Linked DNA regions of Homo sapiens: region 2 is linked to region 1. Evidence: fine-mapped expression QTL. Tissue or cell type: whole blood. Region 1 holds a variant in brackets; the other region holds the start of a gene. All regions are shown on one strand. Distances are from middle to middle.

Region 1 (8,108 bases):
GCAAATTGGAGATTTTAAAATTGATTCTGGATGCTTAAAATCCTTCTCATTGAAAAAAAATTTCGTATTAGAAGATTTCAACATTCTTTAAACTGAGAAGCATAACATATAAACAGAAAACCACAGCAAAACAAAAATGCAAAGCTCAATAAATGAACACAAAGTGAACACCATAATAATTGCCACACAAGTAAAAAAACAGAAAATCAGCCAACCCTCCCAGAGCCGCCTGATGCTTGCTTCCAGTCACATTATCACTCCATCTGCCCTAAACATAACCCCTATTTTGATTTCCAATGCTGTAATTTAGTATGCCTGTTTTTGAAACATATAAAATGGAAATAAAACAAATGTAATCCTATGTACCTGACATATTTCACTCCAGAACATTAGGTTTGAATAGATTCATCTGTGTTGCTGTGTATAACTTTAATTCATTTTTATTGTTATGTAATATTCCATGTTATGAGTGCAACAATTTAGGTGTCTACTGTTGATGCATATTTGCTTCCCTTTTTCAGCTAATATAAACAATACCGTGAATATTCCTGTGTATGTGTCTTGGTATATATAGGAATACATATTTTGTTTGTATACCTAGGAGAGGAATTGTTGGGTCAAATGCTAAACTCTTTTTGAAAGTGGTGATATTAGGTTTACATGCGATGAAATGAAAATTAAAACCACAGTTATAAACAGCATGGATGAACCTCACAAACCTAATGTTGATGGAATCTAGCTGGGAATTCCTGTTCTTCCATATACTTCCCAATATTTTTTTCCAATTAAAATTGTTAATCTTTTGAAGATGTTATCCATTGTGGCAGATGTGCAGTATTATCTCATTATGGTTTTATTTTACATCTTTTGCCCATTTTTTCTTAATTGGATTGTATATCAGTCGACTTGGGCTGCCATAACAAAAATACTAGACTAGGTAGCTTGAACAAAAGGAGTTTATTACCTCACAGTTCTAAAGGCCAGGCCAGAAATCCTAAATTGAGGTGCCAAGAGATTCAGTTTCTAGTGAGGGCTCTCTTATTGACCTGAAGATAGTTGCTGTCTTAGATTGTTTGGTGCTGAACAGAATACCAGAGACCAAATAATTTATAAAGAATACAGATTTATTTCTTACAATTCTGGTGGCTATAAAGCCTATGGTCGAGGGGCCCACCTCTGGCAAGGGCCTTCTTACTGTTATGGCAGATGTGAGATGTCATCTCATATTCAAACCACAGCAGTCGCCTTTTGTGTCCTCATGTGGCCTCTTCATATGCCCATAAAATGACCTCATGTCTCTTCCTTTTCTTATAAGGACACCAGATCTATCAGACTACTGGCCTACTCTTATGACCTCATTTAACCTTAAATATCTCCATAAAGTCCCAAAATCCCTATCTCCAAATATAGGCACATTGGGTGTTAGAGTTTCAACATCAATTTTGGGGGAACACAATTTAGGCCAAAAAGATTGTGTTTTTTCTTGTTGGTTTAAGATAGCTGTCTTTTTGTCCTTTTTGTCCTTTCTTTTTTTTTGAGGTGGACTCTTGCTGTGTCACCCGGGTTGGAGTGCAGTGGCGCTGTCTCAGCTCACTGCAACCTCCACCTCCTGGGTTCAAGAAATTCTCCTCCTCCCAAGTAGCTGGGACTACAGGTGCATACCACCGCGCCCTGCTAATTTTTGTATTTTTGATAGAGACGGGGTTTCACCATGTTGGCCAGGCTGGTCTCAAACTCCTGACCTCAGGTGATCCACCTGCCTCGGCCTCCCAAAATGCTGAGATTACAGGTGTGAGCCACCAAACCTGGCCTGTCTTTTCTGTTTTAAGTTTTTAAATTTTGCTCACGAACCCTTTATCCATTTTATGTGTTGCAGGTATTTCCTCTGTAACTTGTCTTCACTCTGTCAGAGGCTGGAGTGCAGTGGCACAATCACAGCTCACTGCAGCCTCCACCTCCCAGGATCAAGCGATCCTCCCATCTTATCCTCCTTAGTAGGTGGGACTACATGTGCAGGCCACCATGCCCAGCTAATCTTTGTATTTTTTTGTAGAGATGGTGCTGTTGCCCAAGTTGGTCTCAAACTCCTGAGCTCAAGCAATCCATCAACCTTGGCCTCCCAAAGTGTTGGGACTAGAGGTGTGAGCCACCACTGCACCCAGCCAATGATATCTCATGATGCATTAAAGTCATTAATTTAGTGTACTCAAATTAAGCACACTGCCCTTTTATGCACAACCTTTTTTGTATCTTATTTAAAAAATCATTTTCTATTTCAAGGTCATGAAGATCTTATTTTATAATACCTTCTTGTGAAATTAGTTCTCAAGACTACCCTCACTTCTAACACCAATTATAAGTTGGGAGGTCTGTGGTTCCCAATCAACCTTAGGTTAGTAATTTGCTAAAAGGACTCACAGAACTTGCTGAAGCTGTTAGCCTCATGGTTACAATTTATTATAGGATATATAGCTTATTATGTCATTCCAATGCAATGTAAAATTATACAACTACTTTTAAAAAGATTTTAGCATTTGACCCAACAATTTCACTCTGAGGTATACAAACAGCAGATATGTGTGCACATATATACCAAGACACATACACAGCAAAATTCATTGTTTGTAATAGTTGAAAAGGGGAAACAACTCAAGGAATAAAGATTAAAATCAGCTGAGAAAAGAAACACACAAGGCAGTATTATGGATCGAATTGTATGCAGATCTCCCTTGCCCCCAGAAGATATGTTTAAAGTCCCAACTCCCAGTACCTCAGAATTGTGGCCTTATTTGGAAATAGGATAGTTGCAGATATAATTAGTTAAGATGAGGTTATAGTACAGTATGATGGGCTGGTGACTTAGAAGAAGTAGTATATATATATTTTTTAATAGAACTAGTATTCTTCTAAGGTGGTCACGTGAAGACAGACACACACAGGCAGAGACTGAGGTTATGCAGCTGCAGGTCAAGGAATGTCAAAGGTTGCCAGCAAGTACGAGAAGCTAGGAAGAGTCAAGGAAGGATTTTCCTACAGGCTTCAGTGGAAGCATAGATCTAATGATACCTTCATGTCAGATTTCTAGCTTCCAGAACTACAAGAGAATATATTTGTTGTTTTAAGCCACCCTAGCTTCTAGCTCTTTGTTACAGCAGCCCTAGGAAACTAATATAGGCACAATCCAGGCAAGTTCCAAATATGAGCTTCCAGTTGTCCTCTCCCAGTAATATGAACAGTATTACTTTCCCAGCATTAATGTGTGACAATACACATGACGTACAGAGCAGTCCCCACTTATGCACAAAACATATGTTCCAGGACCTCCAGTGGATGTCTGAAACCATGGATAGTACTGAACTCTATATAGCTGTTTTTTCCTATACAGACACAGCTATGATAAGGCTTAATTTATAAATTAGGCACAGTAAGAGATTAATAACAATAAATTAGAATAATTGTTAAGAATATACTGTATAAAAGTTAGGTGAATGTTTATTTCTGAAATTTACCGTTTATTATTTTTGGACTGCAGTAGACCACAGGAACTAAAACCATGTAGAAACCGTATACAAGAGAACTGTATTTCACCCGAGCCTCAGTGTGCAGTTTTAATGGCCTGCCATGGTTGACTGCTCACATGGCCGATCTTTTAGTCTACCTCCACAGGTAGAGCTGATACTGTGTGGCTCAAAGTTCCTATTATAAATCACATTGTTGACTGTGTGGTGGTCAAAACCTCCAGGTAAACAAAGACACACTTATCAGTGAGAACATTTCAAGGGTCTAAAATTCATCTCCCAGTAGCTGAGGGCAAAGGCTAGACCTCTTTTTGGGTAAGATAAATTTTTTACCATATACTTTATTTTGCTTTTCATGTTTAACTTTATTTTGCTTTTCATGTTAGTTCCCCTGGAATTGTTTTTTGTGTATAGTGTGAAGTAGGGGGTCAAGTTTCTTTTTTTTTCCTTTTTGTTCTTTTTCTGTTTAAAAGGCTATACAATTGTCCCATGCCATTTATTTACAAGAGTCCTTTCACCATTGTTGTATGGTGCCACTTTAGATGTAAATCAATGTCCATATTTGTTTGAGCCTGTTCCATTCGTTTGTCTATTTTTGGACAACACTGCCCTGATTATTGTCATTTTATCAGTTTTGATATTTAATAAAGCAACAGATTTGTTTATTTTGGGCCCTTGGATTTGTGTATTAAATTTGAACCCTGTTTGTCAATTTCTATAATAAAGCTTATTGGGAATCTGATTAGGATTACAATGGTTTTGTAGATCAGTTTGGGGACAATTAATACCTTTAAAATATTGACCGCTTCAACTGTAAATATACTCCTCCATTATTTAGTTTTCCTGTTTAATTTATCTGAGTAATACATTATAGTTTTCTTCGTAGAAGTCAGATACGTAGAAAATTCAAAGCCCAAGTGCAATAGCTCATGTCTGTAATACCAGCACTTTGGGAGGC[C/G]GATGTGGGTGGATCACCTGAGGTCAGGAGTTTGAGACCAGACTGGCCAACATGGTGAAACCTCATCTCTAGTAAAAATACAAAAATTAGCTGGGTGTGGTGGCGGGCACCTGTAATCCCAGCTAATCAGGAGACTGAGGCAGGAGAATCGCTTGAACCCAGGAGGCAGAGGTTGCAGTGAGCCAAGTTCCTGTCACTGCACCCCACCCTGGGCGACAGAGCGAGACTTCGTCTCAAAAAAACAAAAAAAAGAACATTCAAATAATCAATGTAGATAATTCAAATAACTAAAAAATGAACAGTTATTAAAATATCAGGATATAAAAGCAAAAAAATCAATAACCTCCATATATACAAAATGGCCAGTTAGAGAAAAAAAAAAGAATAGGCGAGACTTAAAAAGGCTGGGAATCTCCCTGAAAATCTTTGAGAGCCTTGGCCCTGCCCTCAGGGATTTCTCTGGCTTCATGCCCAGATACGGGTACAGTTCCTTGTTTAAAAAAATTTTGCTCCATCAATCAACAAGGGGCTCCTTCCTCAGAGCACAAGGACCTCCATAACACCGGACACTAGATGTCTAAGGGACACCTCTTAAGGAAGTTAGACTTCCAAAGAATGGTGTTTCCTCTGTCCCCAAACTCTGGAACTCACAGCACAACTGCTCCTTGGAGTTCGGTTTCAAATCTACAAGGCTGTCATGGAGGTTGCAGACCAAGTCCGTGGCCTCAGTGTCCGGATGTACGGTGGCCTTGGCACCTGAATGTGAGAACATGACCTCCCTGAAACCACCACAAGTATTGTTTCATGTTATGTATGTTTTTTCTTATCTGAAATTCCTTTTCTTTAAAAATTCAAATTACATATTTTGCAAGCCCCTGAACAAGCTTCATGAGCATTTATTGAACCCACAGCTTTTAAAACCTACTGAACACTTTGCTCTATGTTGTCATTCACTATCCACCAATTATTTAATTATTGATCAATATTGTTTCCTTAGTGTTGGGATCATTTATGCATGTATTTCTTTTATATTGCATATTTTATATTTCTGCATTACAGTTATTACATATTACTTTTGCTACAGTAATAGTTCAAAAGTGTACATCCAAAATTTAGCTGTGAAGTGGATGGACTGAGGCAGAACTGGAGGCAAGAAAATGTCACAGTAATTCTAAAAAAGATGATGTACAATTAGAGCAAGAGAGTAGCACTGAAATTGAAGAAAAATAGATGCGTTTGAGAGAAAATTAGGAGGTAGAATCAACAGATTAGATGTAGGGATGAGAAGGGTCAAAGATGACACTAGGGTTTTTAACTGGAGCAAGTAGGTAGACAGAACATTTCTTCCTGAAAGGGCAGGTCAGATCATGTGTTGTCTCAAAGGGCATGAAGAGTAGAAAGCCTGGGACAGATCCTGAGATGACCAATACCCATGGTGCAGGGAGAGGGAGGGAGATCTGCTAAAAAGACTGCAAATGTCAGGATAGTAGAAAATCATGAGTGTGTGATGTCCTGGAAGTTGAGACAGTATCACATTTGAGAACATTTAAATTGGTAACTCTGACAAAAAGCTGGAGGCCAACTGTGAATGCCCATGAGAGTGAGAAGCTCCCACACTTTTGTGGGCATCAGAAAGCCCACCAGGTTCCTGCAGTGAAGATCTGAGAAGGATCCTCTTGTGGCTTTGGCAGGGAGAGAAGAATTATTATGAAATACACCCCAGAACCTTCTTCAAAACAAAGGCCTACTCTCAAGGGGAAAACATTTTGCCAGAGTCTTATCCCAGCTGGGAGAAGGTAATTCTTCCCACTGCAGCCTCATCTAGGCTTTCTGTCTCACTTAAGGGAAGAAAATTAGTCAACAGGGATCAGAGCTTCATGAAAATAAATTGGAAATGGTGCAGCCAGGAAAGGAGCAAAGGTCTGAGGAGGAGGAGAAGGAGGAAGAGGAGTTGTATCATTATAAATACTTGAGGAAGAGGAGGAGAAGGAGGAGGAGGAGGAGTTGTATCATTATAAACACTTGAGGAAGAGGAGGAGGAGAAGGAGGAGGAGGAGTTGTATCATTATAAACACTTGAGGAAGAGGAGGAGGAGAAGGAGGAGGAGGAGGAGTTGTATCATTATAAACACTTGTGACGGTCCCAGCCCCAAGATATAGGCATGCTAATAAACTGAGGCTTAACACTTTGACTACAGAATGCTGCTTCTCCCTAACACCATCAAGGCTCCAACTGAATAACAATGAATTATGAATGAAAGAGCTGTAAGGAGAGACAAAAGTTAGAATGAGACAAGTATTGTTATCTAGAGATGCCAAGAAGGCAAGGAAGATAACTAAAAAGGCACTCTGGATTTAGAAATAGGAAGTCATTAGTGACCTTGTAAATAATGGAGCCAGAGGAATACCAAGGGCAGAAGCCTCACTATAGTGTGTTGCACCTGTCAGAGGTCAGGAGGTGTAACTGACTCTCCCACAGTGTGGCTTTGGAAGAGAGAAGTCAGCAGCTGCATGGAGATTTGGGAGAGGGAAAGCTTTTTTTTTTTTTTTTTAATTGGAAAAGACTGAGCTATGTGTAAATAGAATAAGACAGGAAGAGTGTAGACACAGGAAAGAGGGCAGACAAAAACAAGTGCACAGTTATCTAAGGGAAACAATGGGATCAAGCTGCAAGTATATAAACTTGTCTTGATAGAAGAATCCTTGATCTGGTTTATTCAGTGTTTGGTCCAAACCCACATCCCTGTTCTGCCTGTCTCTGACTTGCTCTGTGCCCCAGAAGCCCAGCTTCTACAGATAGCATTAGCTGGGCAGCCCTGCCCTCTTGCAACAGCTGGATTTGGCCAGTGATCAGCCCAGCAGGAATGTAGATGGCAAAGGAGAGAGAGGTTAGTGTACTTATTCCCTGCATCACCCCCCTGCTTGGTGGGCAGCTCTTCCTCCACAGTCCCAGCTCTGGCCTAGCTCTGGTTACAGGTTCCCTCCCATTGCCTCTTCAGATTTAAAGGTGTGTCTGTCAGGGTATAACTGGGAGCTAGAAATTGCACTGAAATTGAACAAAGAATTTTATGGGAATGGTTGTTAACTAGTTATAAGAGGACTGAAAATGGAAAAGTGGACAAACGTATCAGAGATAGTAATGACAGAAAGCAACTACCACCTCCAGGTTTAGGAGAACAAGGAAAAGATTCTTTGAAGAGATCCCCAGAACTGGGACCTCTGAGGAGTGTATGCTGGACCACTGATGATGATATGTCTGTAGATAGAGGCATGATGAGGCTGATTTTAGGAGCATGGAAGATCTCCAAACTGAAGCCAACTGCTGTTACTGGATTCAACTGCCACTGCCAGGTTGAAGAACCCATTCTGTGAGGATGTCAACAAACAAAGTGGGAAATCTTTTCACATCCTTCCAGCCCTCTAGTCTTCCTCCAGTGCTTTCTATTGGTAGGGTTTGGGGAGGTGGCTAGCAAAGCGGTATTGGAAAAGATAGAAGAGACTAAATCTTCATAACCAGCACAGGGTGACACTGGATCACTACTGTTGCTGATCTTGGGCTGCCTCATATCCCCTGTTCTTCCCATTAGCCCTGTCACAACTTTGTAGATATCCCTTCATTATATGCCCTTCATA
Region 2 (8,108 bases), 46 kb after region 1:
TCTAAGATGAACCACTCTCTACCCTAAATGTCCCTCCCCACCACCAAAACCAGGGACCTCCAGGCAGACATTTTTGATGGTTTGTTTTCTTTACTAGACTGTAGATACCTAAAAGGTGATGGGTCTTTCTTCCCTGTTTTCAGGCCCTACTGCATGGCTTTACATATTGTGGTTTTTCAAATGATATTCATGGTGTGAAACAAGAAAAAATGCGGGTGTTTGGTTTGAGAACAACCTGTTCTAAAGCAAAAAGAAATTCATCATAACACAAATGGATAGAGATAAGAGTCCAACCATCCCATTGAAGGTCAGGATGGACAGTCTAGATAATTGAGCAAGAAATCATCATAAACTATTTTTCAGAAGAATGACATGATGAAAGCTGTATTTCCAAGTCATAATGTTAGGTTTCAAGTTAAATCATCTCAGCTCCTGGGGAGCAGGATAAGACTTGGTACTTACCAAAGCTCCCGGGCCCACACACTCACCTTGTAGCCCTGGCATACGTCTTCAACAAGAGCTGTGGTGTGCCCTTTGTGCTGTGGTGCCCGCTCACAGCGCCAGCAGATGAGCTGCCCCTCGTCTTCGCAGAACAGGTGGAACTGCTCTCCGTGTTCCTCACATGACATTTCTTGATCCGTCTCTTTGAGGGCTTCAATGAGGCTTCCCAGCTGCTTGTTGGGTCGGAGGCTATCCATATGAAATGGAGCCCGACACTGGGGACAGCAGAATGTCTCCTGCCTCAGTTGCTTTTGGCTTGGGTTTTTAAAGAAGTCTGTTATACACAAGTGGCAGTAGCTGTGTCCACAGTTGATGCTTACTGGGTTCGTCATCAGGCTCAGGCAGATGGAGCAGGTGGCTTCCTCCATCATCTTCTTGGTGCTGGTGGTTGAGGCCATAGCTTTTATTGAAAAGCTCCAATATTGGCTCTAGAGATGGAGATGAAGCAGCCAGAATTTTCCACCGTGATGAAAATACACCTCACCTGCACCTCTATGTGATGAGCTGGCTGCAACTGACTTCCATAGGTCTTGAAGGTTTTCCTTCCAACCCCTATTATCTCATTTTGTATTGAAGAAAAGAGGACCTAAAAGGAAGAAGTTGAGGCTGAGGTTGTTTGGGCCACGTTTGAGAACTGCAACCCAAGTGCAGAGTTTCAAGTTGCCCTCATTAGCAAGCAGTTACAAGTGGTTGTTTAGAGGAAAAAAAGCAGTTTTAAAGCAGTTTTAAAGTTGTTTGCCAAGAATTTACATTAAAATAGCATAAGCTTTTGACTGGCTATACATTGTTCTTTGTATTACAAATCTCGGGAATATGTAGGTAATAGATGAGGCAGCCAGTCAGGAACAAAATGCTTTTAAACATGGGGTCTTAACTGAAGACCTATACTCCTGCCTCACTTGTCCTGATAAATTTTGCATACCTCACATAGCTCAGACTGCTCTAAATTATTTCATTATTTTTCTTTTCTCAGTCTTCTAACTTTTTTTTTTTTTTTTAATGAGACGGAGTCTCACTCTGTCACCCAGGCTGGAGTGCAGTGACGCTATCTCGGCTCACTGCACCTCCGCCTCCCGGGTTCAAGCGATTCTCCTGCCTCAGCCTCCCGAGTAGTAGCTGGGTCTACAGGTGTGCACCACTACGCCCAGCTAATTTTTGTATTTTTAGTAGAGATGGGGTTTCACCATGTTGGTTGGCTCGATCTCTTGACCTTGTGATCCACCCGCCTCAGCCTCCCAAAGTGCCAGGATTACAGGCATGAGCCACCGTGCCCAGCCTCTTTTTCTTTTCTTATAAGACAAGTTCTCGCTCTCTTGCCCAGGCTGTAGTGGAGGGCAGTGGCATGACCACAGCTCACTGCAGCCTCGACCTCCTGGGTTTAAGCAATCCTCCTGCCTCACCCTGGCAGAGTGGCTGGGACTACAGGTATGTGCCACCATGTCCAGCTAAAGTCTTCTCTCCAGAAAGAAGAAATGCATTGGAATTTAGAGGATACACAAACATCTAGCTGTATAGCTAATACAGTAGCCACTATCATGAGTAGGAATTTAAATTTAACTTAATAAAAATTAAAATGAAAAAATTCAGTTTTTCTGTTCCAGTTGCCACATTTTGATTGCTTAATAGTTGCATGTGACTAGTGGCTACATAACAGCCTCAATATACAACATTCTGTTATCACAGAAAGTTACCTTGGACCAAGTGCTGGGAGAAGCAATGCAGGCTTCCTCACAAAAGCTGTAAAAGAGAGAACTCAGGGAGTGTGAAACTCTTTCCTATTCTAGTTAACTTCAAGAATAATTGTTACCAGGCCAGCACGGTGGCTCACGCCTGTAATCCTAGCACTTTGGGAAGCCGAGGCGGGCAGATCACCTGAGGTCAGGAGTTTGAGACCAGCCTGACCAACATGGCAAAACCTCATCTCTACTAAAAATACAAAAAGTTAGCTAGATGTGGTGGTGCACACCTGTAATCCCAGCTGCTCAGGAGGCTGAGGAAGGAGAATGACTTGAGCTCCGGAGGGGGAGGTTGCAGTGAGCCCAGATTACACCACTGCACTCCAGCCTGGGTGAAAGAGCGAGAATCTGTCTTAAAAAAAAAAAAAAGAATAATTGGTACCAGAATTACTCTTTGTAATTAGTAGTAACACTTATGCAATTGGGTGATCTGTGACAGATTCCATTGAAGGAGTATGGGGAGCTTCACCCCAATATATGACTCCCTGGTATAATGAGTATTTTGAATTAAAGGCCCTTAGAGATCAGCAGATGCTGGAAGAGACTTTTCCCCTATCTACATAAAGACCAGTCACACTAGACAAGAAGAACAATTGTTTTTCCTTCCAACCCCTATTATCTCATTTTGTACTGAAGAAAAGAGGACTAAGAATGTAACCAGACCTAATCAGACACTTTCACAAAATAATGTCTGTCTCTCAGGCTCATTCATTTTCCAAAGAGAACCATTTACAAGTTAAACTCTGTTCCTCCATTCATTCATCCTCCCAAATATTCATTTATTCTCCCTAGTAATCATTTACTGCCCCTCAAAGAATTACCTATATTCTCCTGATATCACCCTTCCCCTCTGAAATAAATATGTATACATGTATAAACGTTATACATACATATTTATACAGTATACATACATATTTATACATACATACATATGCATACATATTTATATTTATGTATTTATACATAAGTATTTATAAATAAGGCTATATAAGTATCTACCCCCATTGGCAGAGGGGGTAATCACTCTGTGATTCTAGCCCATGTACTTGTTAATAAATTTGTATGCCTTTTCTCCAATTAGCCTGCCTTTTGTGAGTCGATTTTTCAGTGAACTTCAGAAGGCAAAGGGGAAGTGTTCCCTTGGCTCCTACACCATCATGACAATAAAATTTGACTCCACCTCGACCCCCCCCATCCCCCACAAAGAACAACAACCAACACTGGTTAATAAGGTCGGTTGTTTTTTGTTTGTGTTTTTGTTGTTGTTGTTTTTGCTTTCAGGAGCAGAGGTATAATAGGCAAAAGAAAGAGAAAGGAGAATAGTGAATACCTCTTCTGCAGAGAGGGGTGCCTAAGTGGGACTTCCCTGGCTAATAACGTCTTGCTAGAGACCCAACCAGGAGGATAATGGAAGCAATCAAGGCAACCAGAACAACCAGAAGAACCGGTTTATCCTTTTTGTGCCCTCTCCCTAAACTGAGGGAATAAGAATTGGAAAGAAGGCTGCAGAGCAGAGGGTTTGCTCCTGAGGAGCAGTTATTTCTATGGGATCAGAGCTCCTGCAGAACTGGGGAGTTTACTTTTACTATCTCTTCTCCAGGACAGGACCTATCTCAAGAGACATGTTCAGAGTGATTGCAACATAAAGAGTTTGCAGACCCAAGGAGGTAGGGAAGGCAGAAAGAAGATGGGGGAGGCCAGGGATAGGCAACAGAGGAGTGACCAGGAGCGAAAAAGCCTGCCTCTTCTGAGAACCTAGCTGGGCTCTCCCTGTACCCCCGATCCCTCCCCCCCGCCCGCCCCCACACCCCTACTCCTGGGAGCTCCTCTAGGACAGGGGCAGAGTCAGGAGGAAGTTTGAAGAGTGCCTAGAATAAAAAACAGTAATTTAACTACAATTACCGGGTAGGCTGTTTTCCTCTCACAATTTGATCAGTCTCTTGAAGCCACACAGAATTTCTTCTGAAGACGTGTATTCCTTGGCAGGCTATTTCCTCCAGTGATACACCAGGCCCCTCTCTGCTGGGGTCACTGCTCTTCTGGGGAGATGGGGCTCCCCTCCTTCCAAGGCTCCAGGGTTCCTGTCCTGGGCCCCACTCATCTAAGTTCTGAATCTTCTGAGATTTGGTGTAAAGTCTGGTGAAAGAAAGAGCAGGAAAGAGGTGAGAGCTGTAAAACAAAGAAAGTCCTGACCATTTTCAGAGTTGGAGGGGCCCTGCTGTCACGAAATATATTCCCCACCCCACTTGCCATCAGTACACACTCACATATCCACTGAGAAAACCTTAGCCTGGACCTTTTCCGTAACCTTCACTGCTCAGACACTTACATATTCGCTGCTAGTCCCCTCTGTTGCTGCCACTTCCTGGGTCAGGAAGTTAACTCAGACCGGATTAAACTGAGAAGTGAAACTACTGTGGGAGGCGGGGCTCATAAGATTTAGGAGAAAACTAGTGACGTTGTTCATATCATTTGCACTCCGCCTCTCCGGTAAAGGAGGGGGAAACGTAGGAAGAAAATATCCTTCTTTTACAGCAATAAAAAGAAGGAACCAATTAATAACCCTGTAAACTATCATGTGACCCCAACACAGAGTATCTAAAAACAGGAAGCCTGCAGAGGTTCAGTTCACAGACTCTGATTTGAGATCTTTCTACTTTTGCCACCAACTCCCTTGGGAGTCCTTAAGCCTTCCTAGCTGATGTTACTTCTTTTGCTATTTATGGGTTGCTTGTGGTTCTATAACTGCTCTGAAGGGTGTGGTGGAAAAAGGGGTGGTAACAGCAGTAGGACTCATTGGCATCACAAAATTCATCTGAGTCAGCTTTCTATTCTTCTCTGTCCCGTTCTGTGTCTTGTTTTTCTCCTTGCTGTCCTTCTGCAGGACTCAGATCTTCTTCAATAGCGAGGGTCAGCCAGGATAGAAAATGGGAGTCACTAGTGGCCCAGCAGTGAGTGCCCCCAGCTTAGAGCTGTGTGGGATCCCTGGGACCATCACTCTGCTTTGTGCTTTGTGGAGAAAAGGCTGTGGGGTCCAGGGTCAAGTCCTTAATGACTTAGCTCCAGCTTCTCCACTTCAAAATGAAAGGAAAAGTACTATCACCACCCGTTAGAATTATTATTTCATGGGGAAAAAAGATGGATTACTATCTCACAATAAGAGCTTGTCACATTTATAAGTCTCAGGTGTAAGAGGCATTTATGATAACAACATAATAAATGCTGGCTTAAGTAGATGCAGTGGTCCAAGGGAACCAGTAAGGGGAGCTCAGGACACAGGTGGGAGGAGAAATTAAACTTGAATTCTGGGAGCCACTGGCCTGTCTGGGCCCCTGGCCTGCCTGCTGACCCTGATAGCCAATGGAACATGGAGTTTGGCCCAGCTGCAATCCCTCTGGTCCAACTACTCAAAATAAAGGCAAGATTGGGAAACACGTTCCTTTCTTCCTATACCAAGCAGAAGACTCTTCAGCACTGCACCCTCCTGGGTGCTCACAGAGCCTTCTGTTGTTTTGCCACCTACGATTCATCATGCCCTGGCATGATGGTTGCAGACCCCATGCATAGCATGGGACATTCTACTCCTGAGGCAACCAGCACACAGAGAGAGGAGAAAGAATGAGCCCCTGAATCCTTGGTCCCACGATGAGTCCTTGCAGATATCTACAACTTTCATTGTTGTGGATGTGACTCTGTACCCAGGCATGGCTCATTCCAGATCTGTCCTATTGTCAGAGGTGTTCAAACCAGAATGACTCCATTTTGAATGGGGGCTAGGTAAAATAAGGCTGAGACCTACTGGGCTGCATTCCCAGGAAGTTAGGCATTGTAAGTCACAGGATGAAATAGGCAGTTGGCACAAGACACAGGTCATAAAGATCTTGCTGATAAAACAGGTTGCAGTAAAGAAGCTGACCAAAACCCACCAAAATCAAGATGGCAACAAGAGTGGCCTCTAGTCATTCTCATTGCTCATTATACACGAATTATAATGTGTTAGCAAGTTAGAAGGCATTCCCACCAGCTCCATAGTGGTTTATAAATACCATGGCGATGTCAGGAAGCTACCCTATATAGTCTAAAAAGGGGAGGAACGCTTGGTTCTGGGAATTGCCCACATCTTTCCCAGAAAACATATGAATAATCCACTCCTTGTTTAGTACATAATCAAGAAATAACTGTAAGTATCTGTATTAGTCCATTTTCACACTGCTGATCCAGACATACCTGAGACTGAGTAATTTATACCAGGAAAAAATGTTTCATGCTCTTACAGTCCCACGTGTCTGGGGAGACCTCACAACCACAGCAGAAGGCAAGGAGGAGCAAGTCAGGTCTTACATGGATGGCAGCAGGCAAAGAGCTTGTGCAGGGAAATTCCTTTCTATAAAACCATCAGGTCTCATGAAACTTATTGACTATCATGAGAACAGCAGTATAAATTACTCAGGGAAAGACCTGCCCCCATGATTCAATTACCTCCCACCAGGTCCCTCCCACAATATGTGGGAATTTAAGATGAGAGTTAGGTGGGGACACAGCCAAACCATATCAGTATCCTTAGTCCAGAAGCTGATGCTCTGCCTGTAGAGTAGCCGTTCTTTTATTCCTTTACTTTCTTGCTTTCACTTTACTGTGTAGACTTGCCCCAAATTCTTTCTCACACGAGATCTAAGAACCTTCTCTTAGGGTCTGGGTTGGGACCCCCTTTCTGGTAACACTATCAAAGGATCAGGAAAAGGAAGCTAGTGAATGCTAAAAAGGAAACAAACTACCATTACCAATAATAACAGCAAGACAAAAGCAAAACGGATTGTGACAGCTGTCCCATCTCACACCTGTTTCCCATTGCAGGAAGGAGGGGCTGGTTCATGCACAGAGTGGCCAATATTAGAAGCAGAGATGGGGTGCAGATGAGACTTCAGGAATATGTTGACAAAGGCAGGCCTAGGGAGAAATCAACCTGAACTATCCCCAAGGAGGAATGCATTATCTCTAATATGTAAAGTTAGGCTTGATCCTGTGATTATGGGATATAGGAGTCCAAAGACTCACAATGGGAAGTAGGTCACTAGAGTCTCCTTCAGAAGCTCTGTACTGTGTGTTCCCACTGTGGGCAAGAGTCAGCACTCAGCTATTCCTAGAATGCCTTTCCTCAACTCCTTCAGATTTTGCCTCTCAACTAACCCTATCCTGACCACTTGTTAGCAAGTGTACCCCTCTCTCCCTCCCAAACATTTTCAAATCTATTTTGTTCCCATGGCACTTATCACTGAATATTTTACTAATTTATTTTGTTTAGTGTTTGCTTCCCTCATGAGAATGCAAAGGGATGGATTTTTTTCAATATTGTTCACTGATGAATCCCAGTAACTAGAATATTTCTAAGCATAGTGATGTGCATTAAATCAAAGAGTAACTTTCTGAATTGCACTAAACACACATCACAAGAGGTGTGTGCACATATGTGCATGATGCACGTAGTGTGGTGTGGGTGTTGTGTGGGGTATGTGGTACTGTGTGTGCTGTGTGTGGTATGTGATACATAGTTTGTGTTAGTGTGATGCATGTGATGTGGTATGTGTGTGCGTGTCCATACATATTAGGGGTGGCGGGGATGTTAATATGTCAAATGGTACTAGAAAGTATCAGAACTCATGGTGCTTACTGGTTTCCCAGAGAGCTGCTTCTCTCCCACCTGTAGGATATACTGATGGTTTGGACAGAGAAGAAATAAAAAGAAGGCTGTGACCTACTGGGCTGAGGAAATAAAAACGAAAGTAAAAGAAGAGCTGGGAAAAGAGAGTGGAGGGGCCAAGGGAAATTTCCCCTTTGGCTTCTGGGGAAACTTTGCTGAAAAATCAACTCACA

The links. PIP is the estimated chance that this variant, and not a neighbour inherited with it, causes the effect.
Region 2: TRIM38 starts here. The variant in region 1 is fine-mapped to the expression of TRIM38 in whole blood (INTERVAL, PIP 0.93).

What each region holds. Positions count from the first base shown.
Region 1 is chr6:26,005,495-26,013,602 of GRCh38, reverse strand. No RefSeq gene overlaps it. Among named protein-coding and RNA genes, the nearest start is that of H1-1, 8.2 kb to the left of the region's middle. The variant C/G (reference allele first, on the strand shown) is at 4,477.
Region 2 is chr6:25,959,314-25,967,421 of GRCh38, reverse strand. It overlaps TRIM38 (tripartite motif containing 38), which reads right to left and starts at 4,620. Exons shown (of 8, transcript NM_006355.5): 1 at 4,567-4,620; 2 at 4,140-4,373; 3 at 489-1,087. The coding sequence starts at 899.